Linked DNA regions of Homo sapiens: regions 2 and 3 are each linked to region 1. Evidence: fine-mapped expression QTL. A gene starts in region 1. Each other region holds a variant in brackets. All regions are shown on one strand. Distances are from middle to middle.

Region 1 (8,184 bases):
CCCAGTGCAAACAAATGCAGCTCTATAATTGACATGCAGCCACCGCAAAGCCTAGCCAAGAGTTCTGTGCTGCACCTACAGCTGGAAAGGTTCAACAACCACAGTTTTCTAAACCCAAAACTAAACGAGTAGCCTGGCAGAGCTTGGAAACCCAGAGGTAGTATGGAGTATGGTTAGAGAATGGACTCCTGAGGCAGAATCTTACTTAGATTCACTAATTAGCTGTGTGACCTTGGGCAAGTCACTTAGCCTCTCTGTGCCTCAGTTTTCTCAAATGTAAAAACAGGGATAATAGTGCCCACCTTATAAGGTTGTTCTGAGAATTAAATGAGTTAGTGAATGTAGCATTTAGAATAGTGCCTGACCTATAATGAGTTCTATATATGTTAGCTACTATTGTTATTAATACTTGAAATTGGGACTGTCCCAGGAAACAGCAGATGTCAGCCGTGTTCATTAAAATAAGATATGAGATACCACAGTGTCAGAATGTGTAGCCTTACTTACATAGCTAGTATTTTCTACTATTCTTTCTCTCCTTGTCAAGATTCATCCAATACTTATATAATTCTTATTCTTCTGAACCAGCCCAGAAAATCTCCCATTCCTCTCTGTTTGGCCACCAAAACAGTCACAGCATCCTTGTTTCTGCCTCATGGCCTTCAGCTCTCCCTTCTGCAACAATTCTGCTTTTAGCAACTAACAAATCCCATGCTTTTGGTATTTAGGAAATTGCTTTTGGTTTTCTGATAGTATTAAGCTGACACTGACAGGGCATAAAGAACAGAGACGGGGACACCCCTGCCCCACTTTACTCCATGAGCAGAACATCTCCTTGAGTTTGAACTTTCTTAGGATCCTACACTGGCCAAGGCACCTAGGCCCAAGCTTTCCTTTAACTATGCTCACCCATTCCATTATAGTCCCAGAAAAGCTGCTTTCTTATTTCTCTCCTGGTGACTTCCAAGTGAATTATTTCTCTTGGGGTAGAACTCAATTCTATGTCAGGCTATCTATCTCTAAAAAGAGAAGAGGTCGCTGACTCAGAGGTAACAGTGCTGGTCTCATGCAACTGCAGATATTATCTCATGTTGCCTGCTCGTTGTTAATAAAGGCTTAATTTGAGATACATCTCAGAGTATACTCACAAACAGTGTCAGGCCCTTCAGTAGGTTGGATTCATCTAACAAACATCCCCAGGTATTTTTTGAAGAATTCAAGGAAATATACCTGTGACACCTAGAAAGTAACTCATATCCTGAAGCCTTAGGCACTATTAGCTAAAAGTAGTGTACATTAATTAATTTTAAAAATCTTTAATTTAAAATCACCTTTTCCATGATGAATCATCTCAAAGTCATAGCTTTTATTCAACAGCTTTTTGCAAGTGGGCATTTTTCAGACATTGGGAATCCCAGCAGGGCCCAATTAGCATGTTGGATTATTTAGGTAATCCCTGCACTCTACTGAAATGCAACTTTTCATCTTTGACTTCTCTTTACATTCCAACACTACCTGTTTTCAGGAGCTATCAGTTTTTTTTGTAATCAGCCTCATATCCATTCTAGGGATGATTTTCATATTTATCAACAATTATTTTCTCATTTATGCTGAGCCCTTACAGGATTTTGGAAAGTCAAAGGTGAACTACAGAGGATTTTCCCTGGAGCTGTTCACAGCCAGTTGGGAGGCATGGACACAATTATGGTTCAAAGTGATTAGCAGAAGTTTAGGTCTATCGGGGCACAGCAGCAGGTACGAGTAGAGCTCCAGGGAAGGGGCAGAGAAAGGAGACATCAAGGAGGAGATCACATTTAGTTTGATACTTTTAAGGTGATACAAGAATTTGCTAGGTAGGAAAAAGAATGTATTCATTATAGGCAAGAGCCACGGAGGGGGACGACAACTGGAAGGAGGTGCCACTGGGAAGGAGGTTGCAGTGAGAGTCTAAGGGGCAAAAATGAGGAACAAGTGAAGGGGCATAAATGAGGGGTCCTTAAGGGGGAAGATGTGCACGATCAGATTCAGGTGTCAGAAAGGCAACTTTAACCAAGTCTCTTCAGATTCTCTTTTTGCATCTCCTGAATTGCAGACACTAGGACTCAATCATTTTTTAGAAGCTAAAAAAAAAGTTCAGGCAAGATGAATTAGTATTAAGGGAGTGTTTGAGGCACCTGTGGCAGTGTTGTGCAATAGAAGAGGTGGAAGGAGGATGGCTAGGCTTTTCTTCCCTGATGTCCTACTACGAAAGGTTCCAGAGCTCTTGGCAGAGACAGTGATTGGTTCCGGGGCGGCGGTGGGGGGAGGGGGGCAGTGGTGGTGGGGGGTGGAGGAGCTCAAAGAACTCTGGAGTAGAAGCCAGAAGAGCTGACTAGCAGCAAGACCCAGACATCTCCCTTCTTCCACCTCTGTTTCTTCACCTGTGTGCCCAATATGGTTTGAGCTGCATCATCTTCAAGTTCCCTTCCAGCTCCAAAACACTGGGCATAAAACAACACATCAACTTCCAAACCCACTCTGAACACTAAACTCAATTTAACCAGACATCTTTTCAGCTGGAATGATTTGCCTTCCACTTTGTTTTCTACCTCAGATGCCTGGGGGACCACATGGAGAACACCCAGGGGAAGAGAAATTGATGGAGTGGGGTGGCTGGGTGCTGGCTGCTGACCTCCAGGAAGTTGTCACATCTGTTAGGTTGGGGCTGATGTCCCTCATTCTATCTAAAGAACTGTAGCTTGAGAACTTTCCTTTTGCTTGGTAAATACTGCCCTACACTAGAAGCAGTCGGTGTTCATTGACAGAAACAATGGGCAGCCAGTGTATTTGCCCAAAGGCAAGTCAACAAGAGAGGCAGCTGAAGGTGCTTGTGCTTGTTGTAGCAACTGGCAAGGGTGTAAATCAGTTGTTGCTTTTAGCCCATAATAATGAGATTCAATATTGTTTTTTCCAATACCTTTGATTGGTTCCAATCATATTACTTTTTCAAACAAATCTTCATTAGTAACAATCAATGCAAAAAAAAAATCTGTAAAAGTAACAAGGTGCAATAAAAGTAGATGAAAGACCTTACTTGATGTGTTAGAGGGCTACCCTCTAACACATAGCTCTTTGGTAGCTCTTCGGATAATTTCCCGTTTCCTTTTTTTTTTTTTAAGTTTATGTCGTTTCTTTAGTATGCTTTCTAGTAGTAAATTTTCACACCCCAGTTTTTCCAGGAGATTTTGGAATCAGCAGACTTCTCAGCCCACACCATAAAAAGCAAATTAATCATGTCTCTGTTTCAGCCAATTGAAGCTTTTGTTTTTTTTTACATAAACTGCCAAAAAGTTTATGGTTTTCTTAATATGCCCATTAAAGCTGGTAAATTACAGGGACGCACACTTCCTGGAAGACAAAGACTGAAAGAGGGTTAAATGAAGTGAGAGCTGTAGCCAGTTTAGACAGCTGCAGCGAAAGCGAAGTCCCCTCTCCATCCCACCCCCCAAAAAAAGGAGTTCTAATTTTCTCCACTTCTTTCACAGAAAGGATTAGATTTTCTGGGTGTCACCCTCCCCGGCAGAGTTCTGTAGCCTCGGGCACCCTACCAGCTTTTGCGATCCTCCTTCCCAGGAGTAGGAAGTGGAGGCGGCTTACCCCGGCCGACGGGAACGAGCGCGATCACCAGGGCGAAGACTAGGGCTGCGCGGGGAGCCTGCATGTCCGCTCGCCTCGGCAGAGGCGCGCTCAGGATGCTGCGCCGGGCTGCAGCCTCTCTGAAACGTGAACATTTCCTGTTTCCTGCTTGTTTGGGTCGGTGCTGACTTGAAGGAGAGGTGTGTGCCTGTTTTTTAGGAAGTGATGTAATTCTGCAGGAGCCTGTCAGACCAGCAAGGATTGCAAAAGAGAAGTTGCTGTTGAAGCACTGGTTCTATTATCACGCCTCTCCAGCCCTTTGGAGTCCCGGCCTCCAGCTTTTGAAACCGTCCCCGGGGCAACAGAGTCCCTTGCTCAGATGTCGTTCGGTATCTGGGACTGGGAGGGGTCCTGGACCACACGCATTCTCACTCTGTGATTTTGCTTATCCCCCAGGTGAGGCTCCGGGGCTGCCTAGACCCTAGGAAGAAGCTGTCCTGTAGAACTTTCTGCCCTGATGGAAATGTTCCAAGTCTGCGCCGTCTGATACAGTATCAGCCACATTGGCCACTGAGCATTTGAACTGAGGCTAGTGCTGATGGAATTTAAATTTTATTGAATTTTTATAAAATTTTAATAACTCCAAGTGGCTAGTGGCTGCTGTGTTGGATAGCGCAGGCCCAGACAGCAGGGACAACTGCATCATCAGAAAACTGCCAGACCACTTCTCTCCGCCAGGTCCATTCTCCTTTCTCCACTCTGGAATGCCCTCCTCCCACCAAGGCCCACGCCAGATGGAGGTGGATGCCACACCCACACCTTAAGGTTATGTTCTGCTTCCCCAGAGAGAAATGATCTTTTCAAGGTCCATTTCCAAAGGAGAATATGCTCTGAGGGTGGAGGTAGGGGTGAATCTGCATCTCACCTTCCTTCCTTCTTACTTGACAATCAAGTTCTCAGACAACAAACAAAACAGGACAGAAACGAAATAGAATAATGGTAGAAATCCTATCCAATCGAAACAATACAGAAAGGTTGTGTCTAGTATACAGTGGAGATTAGTGTGTGTTGGGTGTTCTATTGGAGGTCCTTCCCTTGGTTTAGGTTTAGGGCCTAAGCATTCAGAATGCAGTTTCATAATCGTGGTGCCAAGAGAGACAGACAGATGGAGAGAGGGGTAGTGTTGAGGCATCAGACACATCTCATCTCTAAACCTTTCCCTGCAGATCACCATCTGAGTCATGACTTCCCGTCGTTTGTCTTCAGTGATCTGGTTGGTGCAAACGTATGAGGTGACTGGAATTCCTTAGCCCCTGACATAGCTGTTAATTTTTCTTTAATGCATTGCTGCTTTTCAATGTCATTAGTCACTGTTTATCTCAGTTATTATTCACAAGAAATAGGTTGGTGATTCATGTAAGGATCAGTTTGTTAATGGATTTACAGTATGCACTTTAATGTTTTAAACTGGCAATTAAGTCAATTCTTGATAAAATATGCTTTTTGCACCACAGGTGACAATACAGAACAAACAGCAGGAGAAAATAGACGTGCTCAAAACTGGGTGATTGATTTGAAAACAACAGAGAAAGAACTATTAATTAAACACTTGCTGAGCATGTGAATAGATCACGGGCTCCAAGACCTGCTGGTACTGAGTTGGGGTGGCAATTATTCCTGTACAAGCACGTGTTTCTGCAGCTGTGACACACACGTGCAAGAAAGCAGGCCCAGGGCTTGGGAGTTCTCTCCATTTTACCATTTATGCCCTATTAAAATATTATTAAATGTTATTAAAACATTGTTGAATCCCAGGCTGGAGGCAAATGTTTGTCAAGGGCAAGGTTGTCAGCCTTCGTTTCTTTCATCTTAAACTTCAGCTCCCTGTGGAAGCTTTTGCAGTCAGGTGTCTGTGGATTGGACCACAGACTGTCTTATTCTGTGGACCTCTGCTGAGCCCCATGACATGGCCAAACAGTTCATTACTGTTTCAACAAGTGCACTATGCATTGCTTCTGAGCAGTGCAACACTAAATCAGAGTGAGGTACAAAATAAACTGGAGCTGCAGAGAAATCCTGCCCAACCATGTAATTTTCTTTTGACCCCTGTGCTCTCTAAGACCCTTAGCATGATTAAGCTGATCTTAGGGGGAAGAAAATTACCATGATTGATCAGAAAATGGTAGCACCTCAATGATCTCTTTGCTGCAGTTAAAATCCCAGGGAGGCTGTGTGGTAGGTAAAGGGCTATTTACCTCTGTTTTAATTTTAGCAACCATTAATTTAGGCAAATAGCCACCCAGCCTCAGATTAAATCCCGATGCACTGGTGGCAGGAAGTCAGGGCCTCAGTCCCAGATGTGGGGCACAGGGGAACCTCAGAGTGAGTGGCACACAGGCAGGGGTAATGCCACTTTGGAGCCTGCCATTGGCTGTCTGAAAGCAGGAAAGAAGTATGGTGCTTCATCATGTTCAGAAGGGCAGGAAGGGACACTGGGAACCATGTCTAGGGACTCTTTATTACTTTACACAAAGGAGTGTGACTTTTACAATCAACTGTCTGTGCTACAGAAGTGACTCTCATCCTATCCTCCCTCCCTTCCCCCCGCCCCCTCCCCACCACCACTCCATGGGCCATAAAAGAAGAGGGACTCCAAGGGAACAAATCCAGATAAATGATAGGATCTTCCAGTGGGTGCAGACAGCCTTCTCCGCGTTCCTCTTCACACTCCGATCCTGCCATTCCCAATACACACAGATGTGCACATGCACTCAGATACACACACAGCTGTCTCTCACACACACATTCATGCACATGGTGGAAATAAATGAAGACTAAATGAGCACAAGCAAATGAAACCAAGCAATGGATATTAATTCAGAGCTTGCCATAGCAAGAGAGTCAGCCACCATCGCTGCATTTTGGCACAGACCCAAAGGCAGGCCAAGGAATGAGATAACTTTACAGTCGATAAAAGGAAGGCTCAGGGCCGGGTGCAGTGGCTCATACCTGTAATCCCAGCACTTTGGGAGGACAAGGTGGGCGGATCACCTGAGGTCAGGAGTTCAAGACCAGCCTGGCCAATATAGTAAAACCCCATCTCTACAAAAATACAAAAATTAGCCGGGCATGATGCGGGGTACCTGTAATCCCAGCTACTCGGAAGGCTGAGGCAGAAGAATCACTTGTACCTGAGAGGTGGAGGTTGCAGTGAGCCGAGATCCCACCATTGCAGTCCAGCCTGGGCGACAGAGCAAGAGTCGTTTCAGAAAAAAAACAAAAGGAAGGCTCAGGTATGGCCTGAAGGGAGGCTGCTGGCATGGGGAACCAGCAGCAAGTTCTAGTGATTGGTGAGGAGGTGCATATTTTGCTGCTGCTAGATCAGAAGAGGAGATAAAAATGAGGGAATCTGTCAGAAGGTGCTCTGACCTCCTACAAGTTTGATTTCTAGCAGGCTGGCTTCCTAGACTTGCTACTGAAGATAGTGAATTGGTTTCTGGGGGTTGGTTGCTGCAAGCTGGGAGCCAGTGTTCTGTTTTTGCATATATTATTTGGCCACTGTCCATTTGTACATCCAGTCTCCCAACACACACCCACAGGCACACTCACATACTCAGAAATGTGCACACGTGCTCACACACACACGCTCTCACATCGACACTCACATACAAATGTTCTGGAGCTTCTTTCTCTGTCTAAATGCCTGCTAGTGACAGTGGATGGTTCCTGGGTGTTTGGTTGGCTGTGGGCTGGCCCTCAAACAAGATAATAGTAACATCAGGTGGGGCCTGTGTATCACTCTGAAGCCAGCTAGGAAGGTGCAGGGAGGAGGCAGATTGAAGTCCCAGGTTCTGAAGGAATGCCCAGAGAGGTAGCCGGGCAGGGCAGAGGCTGGGGCAGAAGGATTAGGCTGACATTTAGCGTGTGCAGAGAAGCCACAGCCAGGAGAGGGGCTGACAGCCATCTCACTGCGCGTGAAGTGGGGGCAGCTGGAGCCTGCACAGCCGGGCTCATCTTGACCAGCCTATCTCCACCCTTGGGGGTCTCTGTCTCTGCATCCTGGCTGCCAATACTCTTCAGAGAAACTGTTGCAAGGTTTGGATAATCCTAGGGGCTTCCATGACAGGGTCTTCCAGGGCCTAGGTAGATGGCCTGGTCACCACAACATGAAACTGTAAAGGATTGTGATTAGGAGCTAAAGTGGCAGTTGACACGTGGGACACAGTGCAGCGCTCTGGGCTAGAGGGTGCTGGGGCGTATCTAAGAGACAGAGCAGCAGCTCACTGCTGAACATCCACAGTCCTCCTCTAATTGCCCTCTGAGAGCAATGGCATTCTCTGTCTTGCTCTCCAGTCTATCCTCAGCATTTAGGACAGAGAACAGAGAAGTGAGTAAATGGGGGGAAAATCCCTTTACAGCAGTATTTTTTTAAGTGCACTGGAGGGGGCCACCTATGTTAGAATTATTCAGGGGAGCTTGTTAAAATTCAGAGTCCTGGACCCTATGCCAGAACTATTGAGTCAGAATCCCTAGAGCTGAGGTCCATAACTCTGTATTTGTAATGTTTGA
Region 2 (8,184 bases), 60 kb before region 1:
AACGTATTCACCCTATTTTTTTTTAAAAAAAACATATACTACAAGGCAATATGTATGTGTTGTAGAACATTTGGAAAATATTAAAAATGCACAAAGAAGGAAATGAAAAGCATTAGTAAAGCCACCATCCAGAGAACCTGGCTCATTCTCAACTTCTGACTCTCTAGATGTGGATAAGTAAGTACAGAGGGAAAGAAACATGTGCATGGTGGATACCTCTGCATTTGGCTGCTCCCGAGTGCCCGGCATCTGTTCCTAGCACTCTGATTCCCTTTAGAAACTGCTTTCCCCTGTATCTCCTCCCCACTGCCAACCACCTAACCACCCACCACCCACCCATCCACTCACCCACCTGCAGGAGTAGAGAAAAGTGTCAGGCCCACTCCATCCCTGTACGCATTTTTACTGGGTTAGGCATAAAACCCAGATAGTCTAATCAAATTCCTCTGGTGGTTGGGGGGGAGCTTTTAAATATTAGACCCAGGGAAGGATTTTCCCTTCTACTCTGGTGGTAAAGACAGAAGACTCCTGGAGCTCCCAGCTGCAATAATTACAGTCCTGTAGAGAAAGCTGGTCCCAGAGAATGAATGAAAGACAAAATACTGGAGAAGCCTGATGGGGTTTGAGTCCCTGGTCTCATTGTTACTCATGTCAGTTTTACCTGGTTCTGGTTGTCCCTGGAATTGGCAACTTCTTGCCCTTTCCAAGCATGATGACATGAGCCAATAAGTTTCCTTTTGGGCTGGACTAGTTTGAGTTGGACATTTTCTCACTGGAACCAAGAGTCTTGTTTAAACAAACACACCACTATTACACATACAGAGAGACAATTAGAAGTGTATTTATTTAGTATATATATAACACTATGCGTATGTGTGTGTGTGTGTGTGTGTGTGTGTGTGTATATATATATATATATATATTTTTTTTTTTTTTTTTAATGCAAAGAAAACTGTTGGGCCTCATGTCACTGGCTCTGGATAAGGCCAAATGTATGGGTGGAGCTGCCCCCTCCCGCGGTTGACCCAGTTAGCTCCTAGCATTTTCACGGCTCTTATGGGAGTCAGCATGTGTGCCCTGATGCTGTGGGAGTGTGGGTCCAAGTTTAGGGTCTGTGATTCACACTGTCTCTCTGGAACTGGGCTTTCTAACCTAACAGGGAAACTGGGCAATGCTGACAAAAAGAAGGTATTGGCTATCTAGTGTCCTTCCCAGCCTTGCACTCTCAGGCCACACTGACCCCTGTTCACTGTGCAGCCAGCGGCCAATAAAGGCAGACTGCATAGCTCAGCTCCGTTGTGGAAACCGCCTCTCCTCACCTCATTCCTGCCCCTTTCCAGTCTGCCTCTGTTTCCCTGTCACCTCTAATTTATATTCCAGATTTTGACCCCTCCCCTGCCCCTTTGGTTTTAACAACGAATCTTAGTTTTTGCTGTTTAACCCACATCCTCCCACCCTGCTTCTCTTGCTCATGCTCTGGACGCCCCTGGAACACTGATCCTGACGTGAGTTCATGTGGCTGCTTCCTTAGAATCTTCATCTCAGTTGCCGGAAGGCAGAGGGTCTAACAGTACAAGCCAAGAGGAAGGATGGGGTTCCCTTAGGAATGGGACAGGGTGGGTTATGAACAGAAAGGCACCTTCATGCCAGGTAAAAAGCAATCAATTGGCACTTGTAACAAGATGGAGGTATTTCTGCATGGATTTCATGGAGTTAAGAGGTAAGTGGGTCTTAGCCCATTAACTGGCTTAGTTGGTCTCAGTGACATTCAGAGGTGCTGGGGAACATCTCAGGAAGGATTTACAGTGCCTCTTATTTTGTGAATCTGTCTTCCTGCCCAGAGAAGAAACAATCCTTCTCTGTGCTTGTATTATCACCTAAAATAGATGCTTTCCTCTTTTTCTTAATAAAACTTGTATTTCCTTTCTCTGTGGACCCTCCAGAGGGCAAAGAAGAGAAGCTCAGATCTGGGTTGGAAAGAGCTGCTTCGAGCATTTTAATGATCAGTTAGGCTCCATCCCCAGTTTTCCTTCACCTTCCAAATTGGGGCCACTTTCTCTCCACCTCCACTTGCTTGTTAGTTCAATTATGATCGTTCTCTGCTTCCTTCCATATTGGATTTAATGTAGCTAAAAATACAATACAATACACACAATAGGACAATATGAAATAAAGATAAAGAATGACATCAGGATCCATTAGATGGAAAGTGAGGAAAATGCAATTAAACCAGGAAACTTGGGAGAAAATGGTGATGGAAGATGAACAATACCATATTTGAGTTCTGCACTCACTGATGATAAAGACTGATTAGGTACTTAAGGAAAGATGATATGTAACTCCTAGCTCATTAAATAATTGGTTTTTCTGTTATTATGGAGCGTGCAGTAGCGCCAAGCACTTTTCAGGATACAGAGATGAGTAAGACTGATCCCTATCCTCAAGGTGCTCAGTCTAATCTGCTCCCATTTTAACCTCATGCTTTGAGAGTAGTCATACATTTCTATGTGTCTGATCCACCTACAACCCATTCAGTCCCATGGCTCATGACTCATGTAGTTGGTAAAACTAGTTCTACCACCTACTACAGACTACTGGACCAGGGGTCTATGTCCAAGCCAAAGAGCACATAGGCACTGGGATTCAGGGAGGTCAAATATCCACAATGTTCCTTGACACGAAACTACCTAATATATTTCCTCGATATTGCATGAAGACACACCAATTTGGGCAGATCACATTTTCCAACGGTGCCTGCAACAAATCCCTTATCCCACTTGCTCTTCTCATAATGTGGCTTTGACACGCCTCCAAGGACAAGTGGGGTTTATGTCCTTTCCACCTTGAACCTAGGTAGACTTTGTAACTGTCTCAAACAATAAAGTATGGCAGAAGTGATGTGATGTGATTTCTGAGTCTAAATTATAAAAATACTATGCATTTCTACTTTGCTCTCTTGGGACACTTGCTCTTGGAACTCAGCTGCCATGCTGTGAAGAAGCCCAAGGAGTCTATGGAGAGGCCCACATCATAAAAGCCAAGGCCGCTGGACCACAGGCTTGGCTGGGCTCCTATCCGACAGCCAGAACAAACTTGCCAGCCATGTGAGTCATCTGAAAGTGGGACCCCCAGATCCAGTTGAACTGCCCAGCCAATGCCGTGTGGGAGAGAGTTGAACCATTTGCACTGAGCCTCATGCAAATTGCAGATTTGTGTGAAAAATAAATTGAGTGTTGTTGTTTTAAGCTGCTAAGTTTTGAGGTGTTTAAGCAGCAATAGACTGCTGAAACACCCATCCAATCAGGTTTTCTCTCTTGGGAAGTGTGAACACTGGATGCCTCCAGGGGTGGGCCACTTGAGCTCAGGCTGAATCCCAAGCAATGCTGATTTTGCTGTTCTCCACACTCCTATATACATTCTAGGCTGGAGTATCCTGCAAGCCAGCACGACTATGGCTGTGAAGAGGCAACATGCCAGTCTGCTTGAATGTCTTTCCAATTCTAGCACTAAACACACCTGTCTCTAACTTGAGAGTCCCTGGACATGCCTCTCCACTGCAACCTTAAAGAGGATCATATGCTGTTTATGTCAGCTCTAGTAAGTGGGAACTTTATTTTTTCACCTAGTGACCAAACCTTTACCAGCACTTAGATTTTAAAACTAGGCTTTTTACTTATCACCCCTATTCTAAGCCCTGGCTTTTTTCTCAGCATGATAGACCATTACTTCTGGGCCTAGGGTCCTGCCTTCACTGCCTCTGTTCCTTCTTATCTCAGCCTGCAGCCTCTGTTACTTCTTATCTCAGGCTATGCTCACCTTAAGGCATCCTTGACAATGACTGAAACTTTTTTTTGTTTGTTTTTTTGTTGTTTTTTTTTAGACAAGGCTGGAGTACAATGGTGTGATCTCATCTCACTGTAACCTCCGCCTCCCAGGTTCAAGTGATTCTCCTGCCTCAGCC[T/C]CCTGAGTAGCTGGGATTACAGGTACATGCCACTATGCCTGGCTAATTTTTGTATTTTTAGTTGAGACGGGGGTTTCACCATGTTGGCCAGGCTGGTCTCAAACTCCTGACCTCAGGTGATCCGCCTGCCTCGGCCTCCCAAAGTGGTGGGATTACAGGTGTGAGCCACTGCACCCCGCCAAGTGATGCCTTTTAAAACACTTTCCTACGGCTAGTTATTGGGGATGCAGTGCAGTGCAGTGATTAAAAACTTGTGCTTTGGAGTTGGAAAGACATGGAACAAGGTATAAGTTCTCTAAACCTACCTCATAAGTAATTACTAGGATTAAAATGAGATGATGTATGTTTAGTGTTTAGCACCTTCTGGCCAGGGTGGCTACCTCTTCAGATACCCAATATTCTTCCACCACTTTGTGAGACAGAATCCCTTATTGTTGAAAGTGATAATGTACCAACCATAGAGATGACTGTTCCCTGCTGCCTTGCAGAGATTGGCCAATGAGATGTAAGCAGAGTTGCTTCACTGGGCTGGCAGGAAAGCTATTTAAAAGTGGCTGACCTACTTGGGAGGCTCACCCTTGTGCTGGTTCCCTCTCTTTCCTTCTTGTGAATATCATGCTGGAGTTACAACCACCATTTTGGATCATGTGGCAACACAGGAAAGAAGCCCTGTACTAATGAAGGTGGGGAAGAGTTAGAAGGAACTTGTGTCCTAGATGACCAGGGAGCGGCCATATGAGCTCACCTTGAATCAGGAACTTAATTCCTAACTGATCCACATGATGAATGCTGGTCAAGATGCATCCTTTCCCTAACTCTGTGGGACTGCATGCTCTTTGGGTCCATGCTGTCTCCAGTCTGGCTAAGTTCTAGTTAAAACAGGGAGGAAATAGACTCTGCATCAGTTTCTAGGGGTAGATTGATGCCATAATGGACCAGGTTTAACTTTAGTTGAGACTTTTAGGAGAAATCTTCCTGCCTGTTGTTTGTCAATAATACTGACTGGTCTTTGTGAGCCGAAAGAATAAATCCTTATTCAAGGAAGTCTTCATGTTATCTACAACTTATGAATCTGCCTTTCAGCCTTACTTTCTTCTAATATCAAGGTGTGAGATGAGGTTAAAATTAAAGGCATGAAGAAAAGTGAGTAATCAGGAAAAAAAGAGGTTTTCTTGTGGATTTTTCCATTTTTACTAGAATTTTTTTTTTTTTTGAGATGGAGTTTCACTCTGTCACCCAGCCTGCAGTGCAGTGGCTCAGTCTTGGCACTCACTGCAAACCCCGCCTCCCAGGTTCAAGCAATTCTCCTGCCTCAGCCTCCCGAATAGCTGGGATTACAGGCGACAGCCACCATGCCTGGCTAATTTTTGTATTTTTAGTAGAGACAGGGTTTCACCATATTGGTCAGACTGGTCTCGAACTCCTGACCTCAGGTGATCCACGTGCCTCAGCCTCCCAAAGTGCTGGGATTACAGGCATGAGCCACCATGCCTGGCCTACTAGAAATATTTTTAAAAGTTATATTCTCATAAACAATTAAAATTTCATTCCTTCATTTAAAAATGTTTTGTAAGGAAGAATAAAGACAAGAATGTGTAATAATATATTTTAGATATGCAGAAAGTCTACTTAATTTTTAGGTTAGACAATTTTATACAAAGCAGGCCCCTTTTTGAATTGGTATTGTTTCGTTTATTTAAAGAATTATATGGATCAAAAGAGGGCAATTAAGAATTATGAATTATGAATTCTTTTTCATAGACACAGAAATTAAAAGAACTTTTCCTTAGAAAGATGCATAATTCACCTCTACTCTTAGTAAATAAAACATTTTAGTAAACAAATATCTTATCCTCAAATACACTTTTATTCTAAATATTGATATTAATTACATAGAAATTCACATAGAAGCTATTCATTCCTCATATCTTATAGTGCTTTATTTTTAAATTTATAAATGTTTTTCAATCTATCACTGCCAAATGAGCAATTTAGCACACAAACATGTACTTATTTTATTTAAAAAAAAATGGAGTTGAGAATAATTTATATATACATATGTATACTGACATTTATAAAATTGTAAATCATACTGGAAAAATACTATACATATTATTCTCAGTATGCAAAGTAGGAGAAAAACACCTAAAACCTTTAATCAGTCTTAAAATTCTGATAGTTTTACAAATTAGTTCTAATCCGTAGCAATGGGACCATTTCTTTTTCTTTTCTTTGAGACAGAATCTTGCTCTGTCACCCAGGATGCAGTGCAGTGGCACAATCTTGGCTCACTGCAACTGCCGCCTCCTGGGTTCAAGTGATTCTTGGGCCTCAGCCCCCCGAGTAGGTGGGATTACAGGTGTGTACTACCACACCTGGCTAATTTTTGCATTTTTGTAAAAATGGGGTTTCACCATGTTGGCCAGGCTGGTCTCAAACTCCCGAGCTCAGGCAATCCACCAGCCGTGGACTCCCAAAGTGTTGGGAAGTAAGCCACTGTGCCTGGCTGGGACCACTTCTAATATGAGGCTTACAAGGTAGAATTTATATGCTGCTGGGACAAAAGCTAAGTGGCAAATATGACATCAGATGATCTAACTGACCTTCTCAGCAGATACTCTGCATCACTTGTAAAACAAAAGAAAGTCAAACACAGTGTTTTTTTTTTTTACATAATTTTCAGTTAACTTTAAATACAAGATACACATGTGTTAAATTATTACTAATCTACCAGATTATTGTTTAACTTGTTGAATACCTATAATCTCTGCTTTTTCTGAAAGCTGGCATTTATTAAACATGTGGAGTTTTCACATGTTCCTGGCATTATTTATAATTTGAGGTGTTTCACCGACATCAGAGTAATACATTGCTTACTCTCCACTGATTTGTACACTGGAAAAATGTTGTTTGCTGCAGTGTAGTAGCTACATATCATTCTTTAGTCCTTTACATGCAGACCAAAGAAATGAAAACTGGCTGGGCATGGTGGCTTATGCCTATAATCCCAACATGTTGGGAGGCTGAGGTGGGCGGATCACTTGAGCCCAGGAGTTTGAGACTAGCTTGGCCAACATGGCGAAACCCTGTCTCTACTAAAAATACAAAAATTAGTTGTGCATGCAGTTGTGCACGCCTGTAATCCCAGCTACTTGGGAGGCTGGGGCAGGAGGATCGCCTGAGCCTGGGAGGTGGAGGCTGCAGTGAGCCAAGATCATGCCACTGCACTCCAGCCAGGGCAACAGAGCAAAACACTATCTTAAAAAAAAAAAAAAAGGAAATGGGAAACTGTTAAGAATATGCTTTTCATAAAAGTCCAGTTACTTATTTACAAAATACTAAAGGCCAATGATAAGGTGATATGAACTGAGGAGTACCATTACCCAAGCCTTCTGTACCTGAAGTCCAATTGTAAAAAAAACCCCAAAGCCCATCCACCTTTGTCTTAAACAGGTCTACATTGTACTTCTAAACTTGTACAGTCTTCATGAAATTAACATCTTCATGTTTTCTTAAGCACTTTGGTTTAGAAACTTCTTAAAATATCATTCAAAAAGAGCTTAGAGCATGTACAGAGTTCATATAAAGCTCTATTTTACATAATTGTATATACTGCTATCTCAGGAACATGATATGTTATTTAGAAAAGATAGTAGGGCAAAAAAACAAAACACAAGGTCCAGGTACAAATAATTCCAGCCAGTTATGGTGGCTCACACCTGTAATCCCAGGACTTTTGGAGGCTGTGGTGGGAGGATTGCTTGAACCTAGAAGTTCAAAACCAGCCTGAGCAACACGGTGAAACCCTATCTGTACAAAAGATACAAAAAATTAGCCAGTCCTAGTAGTGCACACCAGTAGTCCCAGCTACTTGGGAGGCTGAGGTAATAGAATCACCTGAGCCTGGGAAGTTGAGGCTGCAGTGAGCCATAATCACACCATTGCACTCCAGCCTGGGCATCAGCATGAGACCCCGTCTCAAAAAAAGAAAAATAAAAAAAAACACCCAAAAACTATCCCCAAGAGGACTAAGAAGGAAATAAAACTTTGGTGCCAGACAAGACAGTATCAAGATAAAGCCAAAGAGTTGCTAAAAACAAAAAATAATAATAATTCAGGCAATTGGTTGTCTGGGTTCTGCAATTTGAAATATTCCACTAGACACTAATATACAGGAACTCTTTTGGTCATTGTCACATAGCAGAAATGCTGCTATATGTGAA
Region 3 (8,184 bases), 27 kb before region 1:
CCTCCAACATCCCCCCACCCCTTGAGTCCATTAGGTAAAACCAGTCATGGTTTGGGGAAGGAAATTATGACTTTTCCTGAATTTTAAAAAATTTAAAAAGCTCTGTTTGCTTTTTTTTCTTAAGCTTAGAAAGAAGCCTCCATATGACCATGTTATTAGGAAGTCCTGAAATTTCAAGCAGTGGAGAAACATGTATTTCCCACTTCTTTGGAATCTATTATATGGGCCTCTGCCATGAAAGGAAATACTCTTCGGGGCTTCTTCCCCAGCTCACATTTGCCTCATCTGCTGACTGTGAAAGATTCCTCTGGCACAGAGACAGTGAGGTGGGCATGTGGGACAAGGGCATGGCCCCAAAGCCAGAGGTGCCCTGTCATGGGTGTGAGGGACATAAAGTGAGTTTTGTATACATGTATGACTATGTATTGTATTAGAGACGTTCCTATCCTTTGAGTAACTTTTTGGAAAGACTATAAAGGCTTTAACTTAAAAATCGAATCCGAGCGAGTTTTACTGGCACAAGCCAAAAGTACCCAAGTCTGCTTTAGACCTAGAACTACCCTGACTCCTAGCACGTGATGCTCCTTGAATCACAACTGAATACTCTCAAAGTGGGTCTCTGACTGAGGGAATTTTCTATAATTGGTTTTCGGATTGATGTTAGTAATCTTTAGACAGTTGAAGAATTTGATTATAAAAGTTAGCATAGCTTCAATGGGAATAAGAACAATGCTTCCTCCAGGACTTTTCAAGATCAAATTGGGATGTGGGGTGGGGGAGAAAATAAAATCTGTAACAGAAATATAGATGAAAGAATGCTCTTCTGGTGGTGATGACCCCAAGGCCTCTAGCCTTCCCATCCCTAACCCTAATCTGACTCACTCCTTGATCAGCCTTTCTCTTTCCCCAGTGATGGGAAATGTTATACTGGCTTATTGGCTAAAATTATACAGGATCCTCATCTGGATTAGGGTCAAAGATGGCAGCAGTAGAAAAGCATCCCCCAGAAATATGCAGGTTCAGGTCCAGACCACTGCAATAAAGTGAGTATTGCAATAAAGCAAGTCACATTAATTTTTTAGTTTCCAAATGCATAAAAAGTTATGTTTTTCCTACAATGTAACCTATTAAGTGTGCAACATTGTGTCTACAGAGACAATGTATATACCTTAATTTAAAATACTTCATTGCTAGAAAATGCTAACGATCATCTGAGCCTTCCGCAAGTTGTAATTATTTTTCTGGCGGAGGGTCTTGCCTTGATGTTGATGGTTGCTGACTGATCAGGGTGGTGGTTGCTGATGGTTGGGAAGGCTGTGGCAATGTCTTAAAGTAAGATCACAATGAAATGTGTCACATTGATTGACTCTCTTTCACAAAGATTTCTCTGTAGCATACAATGCTTTGTTTGATAGCATTTTATCTGCAATAGAATTCTTTCACAATTGGAGACGATTCTCACAAAACCTGCCGCTGCTCTACCAACTATGTTTATGGAATATTCTAAATCCTCTGTTGTCATTTCAACAATGTTCATGGCATCTTCACTAGGAGTAGATTCCATCTCAAAAAAAAAAACAAAACTCTTTGTTCATTCAGAAGAAGCAATTTCTCAGCCACTTAACGTTTTATCATGAGATTGCAGCAATTCCATGGCATCTTCAGGCTTCACTTCTTATCCTAGTTCTCTTGTTCTTTCTACCACATCTGCAGTGACCCCTCCACTCAAGTCTTGAACCCCTCAAAGTCATTCATGGGTCTTGGAATCAACGTCTTCCAAAATACTGTTGATGTTGATATTTTGATCTCCTCCTATGAATCGGAAATGTTCTTAATGGCATCTAGAATGGTGAATTCTTCCCAGAAGATTCCTTCCCAGATTTATCAGAGGACTCACCATCTATGGCAGCTATGGCCTTACAAAATGTATGTCTTAAACAATAAGACTTGAAATTCAAAATGACTCCTTAATCCATGGGCTGCAGAATGGATATTGTATCAGCAGGCATGAAAACGTTAGTCTCCTTGTACATCTCCACCAGGCCTCTTGGGTGACCAGGTGCATTGTCAATGAGCAGTAATATTTTTAGTGGAATCTTGTATTTTGAGCAGTAGACCTTAACAGTGGACTTAAATTATTCAGTAAACCATGCTATAAACAAATGTGCTAACATCCAGGCTTGGTTGTTCCACTTACAGAGCACAGGCAGAGTAGATTTAGCATAATTCTTAAGAGCTGTCAGATTTTCAGAATGGTAAACAAGAATTGACTTTAAGTCACCAACTACATTAGCTTCTAACAGGAGAGTCAGCATATCTTTTGAAGCTTTGAAGCCAGGCAGTGATTTCTCCTCTCTAGCTATTAATAGTCCTAGATGGCATTTTTTTTTTTTTTTTAAGTAGGGACAGGGTTTCACCATGTTAGCCAGGCTGGTCTCAAACTCCTGACCTCAAATGATCTGCCTCAGCTTCCCATAGTGCTGAGATTACAGGCGTGAGCCACCATGCCCAGTCAGATGGCATCTTCTTCCAACAGAGGACTGTTTCATCTACATGGAAAATCTATGGTTGAGTGTAGCCACCTTCATCAACGATTTGAACTAGGTCTTCTAGATAACTTGCTGCAGCTCCTACATCAGTCCTTGCTGCTTCATCTTGCACTGTTATGTTATAGAAATGGCTTTTTCCCTTAAACCTCATGAAACACCCTCTGCTAGCTTCCAATTTTTCTTCTGCAGCTTCCTCACCTCTCTCAGCCTTTGTAGAATTAAGGAGAATTAAGGCCTTGCTCTGGATTAGGCTTAGGCTTAAGAGAATGCTGTGACTGGTTTGATCTTCTACCCAGACCACTGAAACTTTCTCTATATCAACAATAATACTGCTTTGCTTTCCTATCATTGTATGTTCACTGAGTAGCACTTTTAGTTTCCTTCAAGAACTTTTTCTTTGCATTTACAACTTGGCTAAATGTTTGGCACAAGAGGCCTGGTTTTCAGCCTATCTCAGCTTTCAACTTGCCTTCCTCACAAGGCTTAATCATTTCTAGCTTTTCACTTAAAATGAGAGATATGTGACTCTTCTTCCATTTGAACACTTACATGCCATTGTAGGGTTATGAATTGGCCTAATTTCAATATTGTTCTGTATCAGGGAATAGAGAGGCCTGAAGACAGGGAGAGAGACAGGGAATGGCTTGTTGGTGAAGCAGTCAGAACACACACAATGTTTATCAATTAAGTTCACTGTCTTCTGTGAGCATGGTTTCAGGCACTCCAAAACAATTACAACAGTAATATCAAAGATAACTGATCACAGATCACCATAACAGGCATAGTAGTATTGAAAA[CA/C]TTTGAAATATTGTGAGAATTATCAAAATGTAATGCAGAGACACAAAGTAAACATGTGCTGTTGAAAAAATGATACCAATAGACTGGTTTGAGGCAATGGTTGCCATAAAACTTCAATTTGTTAAAAAAAAAAAAAAAAGCAATACCTGTAAAGTGCAATAAAGCAAAGTGCAACCAAACAAGGCGTGCCTGTATTTTGAAATTCAATTAAACTTTTTTTTTTTTTAAAGAAAGGAATATGCATATATTCACTTCTGGAAAATTTCATTGAAATGTATTATTTATCACTTACTATTATATGTAGTCCTTGTTGCTTAATTTTAAAACATCTCTGCTCCTTCTCCAATCCCACCCCCACCTGTAGGCAGGTTTTAGGATAATACTCACATGTCTGTAAAGCACTCTGAGATCCTTGGCTAGAAGGTTCTGTATCAAAGCAAAGAATATTTTGTTTTATTGATTGTTCACTAACACATGAAGCAATTTTCTGGAAATGGAAATACACCAAATATTTACCTTGTTTAGTTCTTTTTCTTTTATAGTATGTTGCAAGGAATACCACGGATAAAAGTAAGAGGACCAATAAAATCAATGGGATTAACACCATCAGTATAAACTCTAACTGATTTTCATCCGGAGCAAAGTTGGTAGAATTTATATTTGCATTTAATGTTTCTTTGATGGTCACTGCAGCAAATGTGCTTGGAATAGTCACTTTATTTGGTCTTTCAGATTCCACAGTTGTATCTCCTGAGTTTTCTAATTCCTCATAATTACCTGTGGGAATAGATACAAAATTGAAATTTCCATGGAGACAAAGTTAGTATGTTATATTGTCAATGATTTTTAAATTATTCCTAGATACATTCTGTGATAAATTTGACCCACTATACTTGGCCTCCAAGCTAAGTGTGACACAGAACATTGATTTAACATAAATGAAGCTCAAGCTGGGAGTGTATTGAATATGGAATCAGAGCTCAGAGAAAAACCTTGCACAAAGGTAGGCAGTTTTGCATTGACCAGACATTTTAGATACGCTTAAGCAAAGTGGATTCGGAAGCTTCCTCATGTTAAGGGTGATTTTCCAAGCCAAGTAATGTGATATTACAGGACATCTCCTATAGGGTATGATAATATTTTAACAAAATGTCTGAATAAATTTAAATTCACATTTACTAAAATTAAGTACATGCCATACAGCACTTTTAGATGTAAAGAAATGCACTCTGTGTCCTAATTTTTTTTTTTTTTTTTGAGGCAGAGTCTTGCTCCATTGCCCAGGCTGGAGCGTAGTGGCATGATCTCAGCTCACTGCAACCTCCACCTCCTGGGTTCAAGCAATTCTCGTGCCTCAGCCTCCAGAGTAGCTGGGATTACAGGCATGTGCCACCATACCCAGCTAATTTTTGTATTTTTAGTAGAGACAGGGTTTCACCATGTTGGCCAGGCTGGTCTCGAACTCCATGCCTCAAGTGATCCACCCGCCTCAGCCTACCAAAGTGCTAGAATTGCAGGTGTGAGCCACTGCGCCTGTCTGTGTCCTAATATTTAAATAAAAGGTTACCTATCAATGGAAAATAATTCTTTGAAAATGAATTGACTGTGCCGGGCATGGTGGTTCACGCCTGTAATCCCAGCACTATGGGAGGCTGAGGTGGGCAGATCACCTGAGGTCAGGAGTTCGAGACCAGCCTGACCAACATGGTGAAACCCTGTCTTTACTAAAAATACAAAAATTAGCTGGGCGTGGTGGTGCATGCCTATAATCCCAGCTACTTGGGAGGCTGAGGCAAGAGAATTGCTTGAACCCAGGAAGCAGAGGTTGCAGTCAGCCAAGATCGCGCCATTGCACTTCAGCCTAGGCAACAAGAGCGACACTCCATCTCAAAAAAAAAAGAAAAAGAAAAAAGAAAAGGAAAATAAAAACCATCAGGATGAGAAAGGACTACTGACTTGATGACTATCTGAAAAACTTTTCCTTACCTGTCTAAGCAGTAGTCATGGTAAGATAAGCTGAAGGTCTTTGTCCTAATATCGTATAATGTTGTCTACCTTTCAGAAGGGGCCAACTGAGGAAAATACCTCGTAAGTTGATGCTACAGAAAACTTATCAAATGAGATAATTTACAAGAAAGTTATTCTAAGGTGAAAGGAACTATGCAAATACAGAAGTCAGCTGCTTTAAACCACACTCTGCGGTATAGGTTAGGCAATTACTTTACAGAATGATCAAACTGGACATTGCAGAGCCAATTCAATAGTTCATCTATCTTCATAATCCCATGACAATGGAGTCCTCTGATTTTGGTTGAAACAATAAAAATGTTTGGTCACTGCTATGAATTGAATGTTTGCATTCCCCTCAAATTCATATATTGAAGCCCTAATCCTCAATGTGATGGATTAGGGCTAAGAGGTGAGGCCTTTGAGAGGTCATTAGGTTTAGATGAGGTCATGAGAGTGGGGACCCTATGACAGGATTATTGCTCCTATGAGAAGATAAGAAAACCAGAGTTCTCTTTCCTTGCCATATGTGGATACGGAAAGGTGGTGACTGCAGGCCAGGGAGAGAGTTCTCACCAAATACTAAATCTTCTAGCACCTTTGATCTTGAACTTCCCAGCCTCCAGAACTGTGAGAAATAAATGTCTGTTGTTTTAAGTCTTGCAGTCTGTGGTATTTTGTTATGGTATCTGAGCTAAGACAGTAAGAATCTAATTGTGTTGATTGTATGAATAAATACTTTCAGTCTCCCACATCAGGGAATTCATTTGATAATCCCTTTAGTAAATGCAACCCCAAACCATCAGAATCAATTACAAACTACAGAGTAAACTCACTGGTGTTTCTCATGTGTATATGCCAAAGGCAGGATTGAAAAAAAAAACTACCAATGTTTGAAGAGTGGAGGGGCTTCAAAATGGCTGACTAGATGCATCTGGCAGTCACCTCTTCACAAAAAATAACAAAAATACTGAGTAGATAAGCTACATTTTGAATTGATCATTTAAGGGAGAACACAGGAATTCAACAGAGTAGTAATAGACAACACTTAAAGCACGGAAGGAGAGGGAAATAAGGCATCCTTCTTGGCTGAGACTGGCTGGGAGCCAGGAGAAGCTCCCCAATGTGGGGAAAGGGTAGTGGTCCATATTTCCACTGCAGACTCCTGCAGCCTAGCCACGGGAGAGCCCCTCAACTCTCACAGGCCCTGAGACTAACACTGAGAGCGCCTGTACACTGTGCAATGGCATTGCTCCAGAGAGGGACCTTATGCGGAGTCCCACACACCCCTGAGCCCTAGTGGCTGCAGCACAGTGCCACTTTGAGGGCCCAGCCCCCACCAGACTGTATCCTGCCCTAGGGCCCAACAGCCCCTGAATCTCCATGTCTCTGGAGCTCCTGCCTGCAGCCACCAGCGCTGCTGGCTGCTGCTGCCAGGGCCAAGGTAGGAGCCGCTGGCAGCACCCCTCCCCCCACCCCTGGCCAGCAGCGGGGCGCTCACACATGTTTATGTGCCTCAAGGACAAACTCCACTGTCCTCAGCTATTGCTGCTATAAACTGCTGCTGCTAGGGCCAAAGCATGAGCAAAGCATAGCCCCAGCTGGCTGCCTATGGTTGCTCCCACTGAAAGCAATCCCATCCTCTGCAGTAGCAGGCAGCAGTGTAGTCACTGCTGCCTTCACCTGAGCTTTCTATCAGCAGCCTGGGGATTGCTTCACCCCTACCTATTACAGCCAGCTACTGCATGCCCCACCAGAGAGTCAAAGAACAGGTCTGCACAGGCCAGCTCTCTCCCAGTGCAGTACTTGAGTGTGCCATTTGGGGCCTGGTGATTGCCCAGCCCAGTCTAGTCCATCACCACTGGCACCACAGCATTCCTCCCAGATGCCTGAGGTTGGGACTACCCACTCTGCTGCCACCATCATAGTTGGCATCCACCCTCATGTACCAGCTACAGGCCTGGGGACTGGCCTGCCCAGTCCATTGCAACCACTGCCAACACTAGCATGGGTACTTGGGACCCAGCGTGTTGTCCTACCACTGATACTGCCAACACCCACGTCAATCTGCCTACCTGCCTGGCTAACCACTACCATTTCTAGCACCCAAGCAAGACACCTGGAAGCCCAAAAACCAGCCTGCCTGGACACACTAACACCAGTGCCAGTGTATACTGCCTTGGGATCCAAGGACAGATATGCTCAACCCACCCCTGTCACCACTGGGGCCTGAAGACTGGCCCACCTGGTATCCTAGTCCCCAGCAATACTTCACCACAGCCTCCACTAACAACCACATCCTAAGCTGCTGGGGAAGCCACAGATACTACTGGCACTGGTTCCAGCAGAATAAATCATATGGAGACTACACTAATGTACATACCCAGAATCAAAGCCAAAGCACTCTACCTAACCAACACCAAAGAAACACCTTACTTTCATAGGGGAGAACTTTTTCCTCCCCTATGAAAGTAAATTCAGAGGCCGGGCGCAGTGGCTCATGCCTGTAATCCCAGCATTTTGGGAGGCTGAGGCAGGTGGATCACCTGAGGTCGGGAGTTCAAGACCAGCCTGACCAACATGGAGAAACCCCATCTCTACGAAAAATACAAAATTAGCCGGGCATGGTGGTGCATGCCTGTAATCCCAGTTACTCAGGAGGCTGAGGCAGGAGAATCGTTTGAACCTGGGAGGTGGAGGTTGCGGTGAGCCAAGATCATGCCATTGCACTCCAGCCATGAGAGGATACAGAAAAACAATACCCAAAATTAGAAAACAATTCAGGGTATGAATGAGAGAAATTCACCAAAGAGATAGAGATAATAAAAAA

Evidence for each region. PIP is the estimated chance that this variant, and not a neighbour inherited with it, causes the effect. A credible set is the group of variants that fine-mapping cannot tell apart.
Region 2: its variant is the best candidate, but not a certain one, in a credible set for the expression of TMEM154 in blood mononuclear cells (TOPMed, PIP 0.63).
Region 3: its variant is the best candidate, but not a certain one, in a credible set for the expression of TMEM154 in whole blood (INTERVAL, PIP 0.74).

Annotation. Positions count from the first base shown.
Region 1 is chr4:152,676,234-152,684,417 of GRCh38, forward strand. TMEM154 (transmembrane protein 154) reads right to left here and starts at 3,764. Exons shown (of 7, transcript NM_152680.3): 1 at 3,637-3,764. The coding sequence starts at 3,700. It overlaps LOC105377495 (a long non-coding RNA gene), which reads left to right and starts at 3,852. Exons shown (of 4, transcript XR_939359.3): 1 at 3,852-4,071; 2 at 4,354-4,440; 3 at 4,842-4,907; 4 at 5,130-5,429. RefSeq lists enhancers at 241-330, 3,398-4,227, 3,538-3,847.
Region 2 is chr4:152,616,660-152,624,843 of GRCh38, forward strand. TMEM154 (transmembrane protein 154) reads right to left here. Exons shown (of 7, transcript NM_152680.3): 7 at 1,969-8,184. Among named protein-coding and RNA genes, the nearest start is that of TMEM154, 59 kb to the right of the region's middle. The variant T/C (reference allele first, on the strand shown) is at 3,962.
Region 3 is chr4:152,648,804-152,656,987 of GRCh38, forward strand. It overlaps TMEM154 (transmembrane protein 154), which reads right to left. Exons shown (of 7, transcript NM_152680.3): 2 at 3,864-4,124; 3 at 3,735-3,773. Among named protein-coding and RNA genes, the nearest start is that of TMEM154, 27 kb to the right of the region's middle. The variant CA/C (reference allele first, on the strand shown) is at 3,347.